2 separate regions of the Homo sapiens genome follow, and region 2 is linked to region 1. The links come from fine-mapping of genetic effects on gene expression. A gene starts in region 1. The other region holds a variant in brackets. All regions are shown on one strand. Distances are between the middles of the regions.

Region 1 (4,264 bases):
CACTCTTGGGTATCTGCCCATTCGCTGGACATGCTTTGGTGCCCTTCCAGAAGGTGGTATACCTTGACACTTGGACCAGGAAGGATATCTCCACCCCAAACATAGATTACTGCAATGTCCTTGGGACACAGTGCCTGTATTGTTATAATAATCTAAACGTGCTTGGCATCACAAGGCCATGAGGGCGTTTTCTGGGTTCACAGCATGGTGTGTTCTCTGAGTGACAGGTGTGCTGCGGGAGAAACACTGAATGGTCAGCGCATCTGCATCTGGCTCAGGCCTTCTCTGCATGTCAACCAGCTGCAGAGGTTACTTTACCTCTGTCAGCCTGGACCTCAGTTTCCTCAACTGACAAATGACTGTTTTTCTCAGTCTCCTGTCCCCTGCTGCCTCCAACCTTTTCTGAACTGCTGGAGAGATGTAGCAAAGAACCACAAAGCAAGGGGTCGTGAGTGTTGGCATTGTTCATTTCGACAGTAATCAGGGCTGTTAGTTATGGCGGGGATTTACAGAGGTCGGGCACCCTGGCTATGAAAAAGTCCACCTTTGGCCACCCAGGCAAGTGCCCCACCAAATTCCAATGGCAAGAACTTGTCCGTTCTGCCTCCCTGGTGAACCCTAAAGCCCAGGTAACCCCCTCCCCTCTTTACCTCTCTGACTGGTTCTTTAAGTCTCTTCTCACCTCTGATGATTAGCTAAGCCTGCTTCATACTTTACCTTCAGTGAGCATGACCAGGAATCTCTTGTTGTATCAGGTAGGTAAAGTGCTTGCTTGCACATTGAAAAGTTTCATCCATTGGCCTTAACTCTAGATAGGGTTTCAGGCAAGGCAGACAGGAAGCTGAGAAGAGAAGGCAGGGCTGGGAAGTCCCCGTGGCTCAGGGCACCTCTGCGCTTGGGCAGAGAACCCTTGACTCACCTTCCACCGTGCCCTGACCCCTGGTGTGGAAACTAGCACAGTTGGATCCGTATCACGTGTCACGGGGCTGGTTACAAATAGCACAGGGATTGGCAAACTCATCCCGAAACTCCCGGTTCAAGGGCAGGGAAAGTTACCAGTTTAATTCCGGCAGATCATTAGTGGTGGAGAACCAGGAAGGGGGTTCTATCGCAAAGGAGGGCTGTGCGCAGACACGTGGGTGCGGGAGGGGCAGAGCTGGTCCGGCGCGGGGCTTGCCGCGTCTCGGCCTCAGTCTCGGAGCCAGGACCTCAGGCCTGAATGGCTGGGTGTGGAGGGCCCTTGTCTCACATTCTGTAGAGCGCACGTCGTCCCGTGACCTGGTGGCTCCATATTCGATGGGGAGCTCGCAGCGAGTCGCTTCCCTCTGTAACCCCACTCCAGGTCTCCAGAGCAGTAGGAGGGCCACAGGGCTGCTGGGTGTAGTCGCCCCGGACCTCGCGGTGGCCAAGGCCAAGGCGGCCGGGGCACGGTACCCTGTTCGGCCTGGGCCGCAACCACGAAGGAGGCGGTGGAGGCGGGGGCCGGCGCTTCCTCCGCGCCCCCCACGCCGCCGCTCTCTCGCGCCCCTATAGAACTGGGCCTCAGGCCTCGAGGGGGAGCGGGCCTCGGCGGGCGGGGCGCACAGTTCCGCCAGCCGGCGGGGGCATCTCAACTCGCCGGCCCCGCCAGGTGTGCGGGCCAGGCAGCCGTGGAAGGTGCCCATTTCTCCCAGATTCCTCGCGCGCACGGCCACGAGCGCGGAGGCTGCCAAACCCGCCAGCCCTGGGTTCCGAAGCCGCCCCTGGCTCTCCATTCCCTCGCGGGCGCGCCCCGGGCCCCCAGTGGCGGCCAGCTCCCACCGGTCGCTCCTGCACTGCCCTGCCCTGCCCTCCCCGGGCCGCCGCGCCCGCGCAGCACCGCCTCCTTCTCTAAATACTGCCGGGTCCGCCCTCCGCACCAGGACGCGCGGTGGGTAGGGTGCAGGGCGGCCGGCGCAGCCGAGGCCGCGTGCGGAGGCGGACGCCGCGCCCAGCCAGTGCCCACAGCAGCGCGGTCAGCCAGGCGCCGGACCCAGCTTCAGGTAAGCTGCCCCGGCCCGCGCGCCTGCGCCGGCGGCGGCGGGTCGGGCGCTGAGCTGTGCGGCCAGGCTGGGCGCGGGGAGCCGCGGCAGCGCGGAGGCGCTGGGTATCCGAGCCCAACCTGCGTCCCTGCGAGCCCCTCCGGCTGTTGCTTGCGCTCGGGCTCCCTAAAAGCCGCAAACCGATTTCGCACAGAAGGCATTTGCCTCTCGTTTCGTTCCCCAAACGCACCATAGCTTTGGACGTGGAGAGGTGCTGTGAATTTTGGAAATGTCTTTTGGAAAACCAATAGGAGTGTTGGAGAGGGGAGTTTGGCTTTGGGGAGTTTAAGTGTAGGGTGGTGTTTGGAAAAGGTTTCATTGCGAGTGAATGTGGGTGTCTTTGTATCCGTTTGTGAGTGCATCTGTGGGAGAAGGAGAGAGAGAGAGTATTTCCACACTATTATGGATCAGAGGTGAACACTCAGCCAGGTGCTCCGTCCACTAGTCCACGGACAAGAAACTACAGATTCAGTTTTGGGCTTCTATTTACTGGTGTTTGGGAATTTGCCTTAAGACAGTTGAAGCCTTGTGACTCACTGCAAAGTTGACTATACTGGGAATAAATGAATTCCTGATAGGACTTTGCAGCCGAGAATCACCCTTCTCTTTCTTGTCTCCGAAACCGCAAAAGAGATTGCATGATTCAGGAAAAAAATTAAAACAACAACAATAACAAAAAACCAATATATATAGGTTTCAGGACTCTCCATCGTTTCATTCCACTGAGAGTTTTGGAATGTACTCCCTGTAGGATAAATGAGGACTACTGTATACTCAATATGAAATTCTTATTCACTGCAGGATGTTACTGACTTAATAAAAAATGGGAAGATTAAAAAATTAGTGCAATGCTTTGTCTCAGCTTAACTGCATCTGTATATCAAGTTTTTCCAAGTTTGAAATGAAAGCTTTTTTCCCTCCTATATTTCCTTTTTTTCTCCAACTTCCTTCTGATTCTATCATACTTTTTCCTGGAAAAGTTTTTCCCAGTGTAAGATTGCCTGTTTGCTTTCTTTACCTAAACTGACCTTCCCTCAGTGTGATTTTGGTTTGTCAAGATCATCTTGGGCTTAGGGCCTCAGTCTTGAGTTCCTTCATGGGACCATGGATGTGAGCGGCACAAAATATTTTAAAAGTTTTCTTTCCTTGGGCAGGTGAAAATAGTCTTCACGATTTTGGATTGTCTTTGCAATTGCAGGACCTGACTTACGGGGTCCTGGTAAAATATCCCATTCATTGGAGTAAAATAAGATAACGAGATAATTAGGTCAGCTCTGTGTAAGCTAGACAACTCTTTAACAACCACTTGGCATATTTAATATATTATACCCCTGAAGTACAGGGCTTGGGTGATTTTCTGGAAGGTGCTTTCTCACTTGATTCCACTTATACTATTCTTTCAAAGCCAAGTTCCCCCCTTCCACCCATTTTGTGCTTTATAACTAGCAGTTTTATTGGCTGCTTGTTTTTTAACTGAGTCTCAACCTCTTTGTGGAAGTAGGTGACACCATGGAGGAGGGTGAGTGAGAGGCCACACCAGCCTTTGGGTACCTGTCCACTCTGAAAATTGAGCTCCTGTTGACCTGCTGTGCAACACTTTCCAGGGTCATCCCAGATCCAAGCAACTGGGTCACCAGTCTGTGCTTGTTGAGAACCCAAGAACCATTTTGTTTTGTTTTGTTTTGTTTTTGGCAGGGTCTCACTCTGTTGCCCAGGCTGGAGAGTAGTGGCGTGATCTTGGCTCACTGCAACCTCCAGCTCCTGGGCTCAAGCAATCCTCCCACCTCAGCCTACCAAGTAGCTGGGACCACAGGCACCATGCCTGGCTAAAGTTTGTATTTTTAGCAGAGATGGGGTTTTGCTATGTCACCCAGGCTGGTCTCGAACTCCTGAGCTCAAGCAATCTGCCTGCCTCTGCCTCCCAAAGTGCTGGGATTACAGGCGCAAGCCACCACGCCTGGCCTCAAGAACCACATTTTGATAGAATCAACTTAAAAGTCCACCAAACCCACTGTGTTCCTGAACAGACTTCTTATTCTATTGAAATTGCTGAAATTGGGTCTTTTGTAGATGTAGCCTTAGAATAAAACATGAAATGGAAAGCTGCTGTAGTCTAAAACAGGAAATGGAAAGTTAGTTACTGAACTGACTTGAAAATGCTGAGAGCAGCTATGATGAAAAGTGGGGCATTTGCAATCAGAAAG
Region 2 (4,517 bases), 39 kb after region 1:
AAATCAGAGAGACTTGAAGCTCAAGAGCTTGGCTAGTCTTGCAGCACTATTGCTGTTTTGAAGATGGAGCGGCCCAAGTGAGAAGGAATGTGGGGGGCTTCTAGGAGCAGAAAGGAATTTCTGGCAGGGAATTGGAACCTCAGTCTTATGTTGCTTAGGACCAAATTCGGCCAACAGCCTGAATGAGCTTGGGAACAGATTATTTCCTGAGCCTCCAGATAATACAGAGGGATGCCTGACCTACAGAACCGTGAACGAATAAATGAATGTAGTTTTAAGCCTCTAAGTGTGTGGTTATTCTGAAGTGGAAACTAACATACAAGTACATAAATTCCTGAGCTCAGAAGCAAGCCCACTGCAGACCTACTCCATCCAGAAGCTTCTCACACCAAGAGCTGGGCCTCTGGGAGGCTCACCTTATCATTTGCTGGAAATGGCAGTGGCTGTGACTTAAATTCCAGCCCCATCAAGGTAGTTTTCAGTTCAGTTGGTGTCTGAGTGCATTTTCTGCTGCTATAAAGGAATACATGAGGCTGAGTCATTTATAAAGAGAAGTTTATTTGGCTTATAATTTTGATGACTGGGCATCTGCCTCTGGTGAGGGCCTCAGGCTGCTCTCACTCATGATGGAAGACGGGGAGCTCATGTGTGCAGAGATCACATGGCAGGAGGGGAAGCAAGAAAAACAGTGGGGAGGCACCAGGCTCTTTTAACAACCAGCTTTACAGGGAACTAATAGGGTGAGAAGTCACCCCCAAAAAAGGGCATTATTCTATTCATCAGGGATCCCCTCATGACCCAAACACTTCCCATCAGGCCAATTTCCAACAGTAGGGATCAAAGCTCAACATGAGTTTTGGAGGAGACAAACATTCAAATCATCGCAGCTGGGGAAAAAAATCTAAAGATTATCAGGACACCCAGGAAACTGCCTACCCAACCAACCTCAGCAGACACCAGCCTCGCTCGAGAACACAGGCAGATCACTTGCCTGCCAGTGCCTGCCCTTCATGGATGAGCAATTTTAAAAACACTTTAGGAAAACAGATTGTCCTCCTGCACTACCACTAAATCAAATAGCCTACTTTCCTGTTCTGAGATTAATCATCTGTAAAACAGAGGCCTTGCTTCTCACCAGGATATCAGAAAGTTCAAGCAAGAATACGGTGTAAAGACACAGAATCCATACTCCATACAGCAATGATCGCCACCGCCACCTACAATATTCTTGTTACTGTTTTGTTTTGTTTTTTTGAGATAGGGTCTCACTCTGTCACCCAGGCTGGAGGGTGGTGGCATGATCATAGCTCATTGACACCTCGATCTCTCAGGCTCAAGTGATTCTCCACCTTACCTCTCAAGTAGCTGAGACTACAGGCTGCACCACCATGCCTGGCTAATTTTTATATATTTTTTTTTGTAGAGGTGGGGTTTTGCCATGTCCTCAGGCTGGTCTTGAACTCCTGGGCTCAAGCGATCCACTTGCTTCAGCCTCCCAAATTATTGGGATCACAGGTGTGAACCACCACCCCCAGGCTCTTGTTATTCTTGAAATAAAATAAAATCTGAAGAATGAGGGGACAGTTTTGATTTTCAACAAGATCCATCCTGTAGCTAATAATAGTATAGTCATGATTCAACCACCCTGTCATTTTATTGTAAAAGTTGAATATAACCTTGAGGCTGCCATGGTCCAACACAATTCAAGTAAATATAACAGGTGAGTAGATAATTCCTATAATTGAGATTTCCCCCAAATATTCCCCCTAAATGACTTATAGACACCTGATGCTCATTTAAGTAGAGAATCTATTCTTAGGGT[C/G]GAGGTTCCGCGTCTGCTCCATCCAGGTCCTTACTGTGCAAGGATCCTCTTGCCGCATGTCCTTGAGGGGGTGGGGCCAAGTGGCATAGGTCACCCCATCCTCGTTGCTACTCCCTGCAGGTCTGCAACTGTGGCCCTCTGAAGGTACAGAGCTGCGCAGGGTGTGCATTTCTGACCGTAGTCACCCCTTGCCATGACATCTGCCTACTTTCACTGATCTAGCCCTAAAGACTGGAGGAATATCATGGAGGATGTTCCCGCCTTGTGCTGGACACCAGGACAGGTCTAGCACCTGGGTTTCTCAGAAGGCTTCCCAGCAGACTATGCATCCTGACCCTGTGTTCCTCTCACATCCACGTGGACCCATGAACCACCTTCCTCTGGAGTCTGATTTTGTCATCCGGACCTTTTCTGATTTTGTTGATCATCTCAGGATTGCCAGGTAGTGGTGGCCACTGACAGGGTCCTACAGTGCAGAGAAGAATGTCCAGGTCCCTTCTTGTGGCTTCTCTCTTTTCTCCCCAACCCCTCTTTCCTGAACCCCCACCTCCTGTGGTGCACCAGCGTAGGGGAGGCCACATGGTGCCATTTTTACCTAAATGTTTAGGAAGACATTCTTTTGAATTTTGGAAATCTTGAAGGGTTTTGAGACATGTATTTGCAAGTAAAACATGCAGGTTCCTGTTTTTCCATGTCACCCAAGCTTGTGGCTTTGTTTTGTTTTATTTTGCTTTTTATGTGCTATAAGTTGTTGAAATATTTTGGGGCTTTTTTGTTATCAGAGAACCTGGTAGTGTTCTGTCTGTAGTCTGATCCAAGTGAATATGGCCAATAGATTACCCTGCAGGATCACAGCACAAGCAGACAGATCTTTGAAACATGGGTTTGCCACTCTACCAAACTTTTGAAAAAAGACATTTAATCACACACACACAGCTTCCACAAAGCAATTTACTTCCAACCACAATGTGTTCAATCAAACGATTTGTTCAGAACTATATGACCACGCTTAGTTTCACTTCCCACCGCAGGTCTCTGATAACCTCTGAAAACTCTGTTTTTGTGGTTATACTGTCATTCATTATTCATCTTTTTAAACTATAATCATTTCAAAATTACAATTTTTAACGGGGAATGTGGATTGGTGGTTAAAAACAGGAAGCTTGATGTCTAAGTCTGAAAAGCAGTGAAAATATGTAAGAAACTCAGAAAAATTCAGAACCTGCCATTATTGTTGATTGTGACAGAGTGTTACCACCTGAGGACTCACTGAAAACTTGCCAGTAAAGAAGGATGAGGTTACTAACCAGCCACAAGTGAATGGGTATATAAACATGGTTGATCTAAAATCTTGGACTATATTTGGATGTTCACATGGACGAAAATTCAAGCAGTATCACAGACTGAACAGTGAAAAGTAAATCTCCCTCTGCAGAAGATTGTATTTTCCAAAGAGAAAGATGGTAATATTTCCTCTCCCAAGTGTTCTTCTGCAATGTGACCTTGACATTCCAACTATAGAAAGGAAGAATCGAATTCCCTTCCCTTTGTATCTGGGTTGGTTTAGTGACTTGCTTGAGCAATAGAATGAAATGAGAGTGATATTCTGGGACTGCCAAAGCCAGGTCATAAGACGCCTCACAGCTTCCACCTGGGACCCCAGGAGTACTTGCTCCTAAGACACTTCCTCTTGAAACCCAGTCCCCTGGCCGGGAGAAACCACATGGAAAGACACAGGTGAGTGCTCTGGTTGATGAGCCAGCGAAGCTCCTAGCATCAGCTGTCAGTCACATGAGTGAACCATCTTGATGTCCCACTCAGGTGAGCTTCTAGGTTCTGGCAGCCCTTGCTGACTGCCTGACAAAACTCAGCCAAGCCACATAACTGTTTTAAGCCACAAAATTGGGAGTGGATTGTTATATAGCAATAGATAACTGGAACACCCTCTCAGTTCTTCTGTCAAATTTATTTCATATTCTTTCAATGACATTTTATGCACAGACATTCAATGATGTGTATGTCTTTCCCCTTGCAAATAATGGCATAATAAGCACACTACAGTACTCACTCTGCTTTCTTTTTCAACCAATAACACATCTTAGAGATTATTCCATACCTGTGTATGTACAGCTGACTTGCTCTTTAACAGTGGAAGAGAACCTTATATTTTACCACCATAAGTTATTTAGCCAGTCCACTACTGATGGACATGTAGGGTTCCCCATCCCTGTACTTTGTTAGTACAGATAGTGATTCATTGTCTATTCTGCTAAAGTATCCTTTTGTAAGGTGTCTATTGTAAGTATGTAGGTTACATTCCTAGAAGATGTTTGTAGCTTCTTTAATTCTGTTGTACGTACATTTTGAATTTTAGTAAATATTGCCAAGCCCCCCAAAAAGAGGTTGTGTCAAGTTATACTCTTCCCCACTCAGATTTAAAGCTGTTTTCCCAGTGACTTGCCAAAACAATGCATTCATAAAGTTTTAAAAATGGTTTACCCTAGATTCTTATTCAAATTATGGATTTTATTGTGGAGAAGAAAATGAGCTTAAACTTTGATATCTATTTGATATCTTTGTATTGCTTGTTTGAGAAACTTCCAGCTATAATTGAATCACTCATTCTTGTCAAAATATTAAAAACTAAAATTGTATGAATTTGGGAAAGATGACATGAGCTACTAGGTAAAAAGGT

Evidence for each region. PIP is the estimated chance that this variant, and not a neighbour inherited with it, causes the effect.
Region 2: its variant is the best candidate, but not a certain one, in a credible set for the expression of TMEM171 in whole blood (INTERVAL, PIP 0.81).

Annotation. Positions count from the first base shown.
Region 1 is chr5:73,118,676-73,122,939 of GRCh38, forward strand. TMEM171 (transmembrane protein 171) reads left to right here and starts at 1,900. Exons shown (of 4, transcript NM_173490.8): 1 at 1,900-2,021. It overlaps LOC124901001, which reads right to left and starts at 1,816. Exons shown (of 2, transcript XM_047417978.1): 1 at 1-1,816. The coding sequence starts at 1,754. The coding sequence ends at 1,053. RefSeq lists an enhancer at 739-1,290.
Region 2 is chr5:73,157,515-73,162,031 of GRCh38, forward strand. No RefSeq gene overlaps it. Among named protein-coding and RNA genes, the nearest start is that of TMEM174, 13 kb to the right of the region's middle. The variant C/G (reference allele first, on the strand shown) is at 1,823.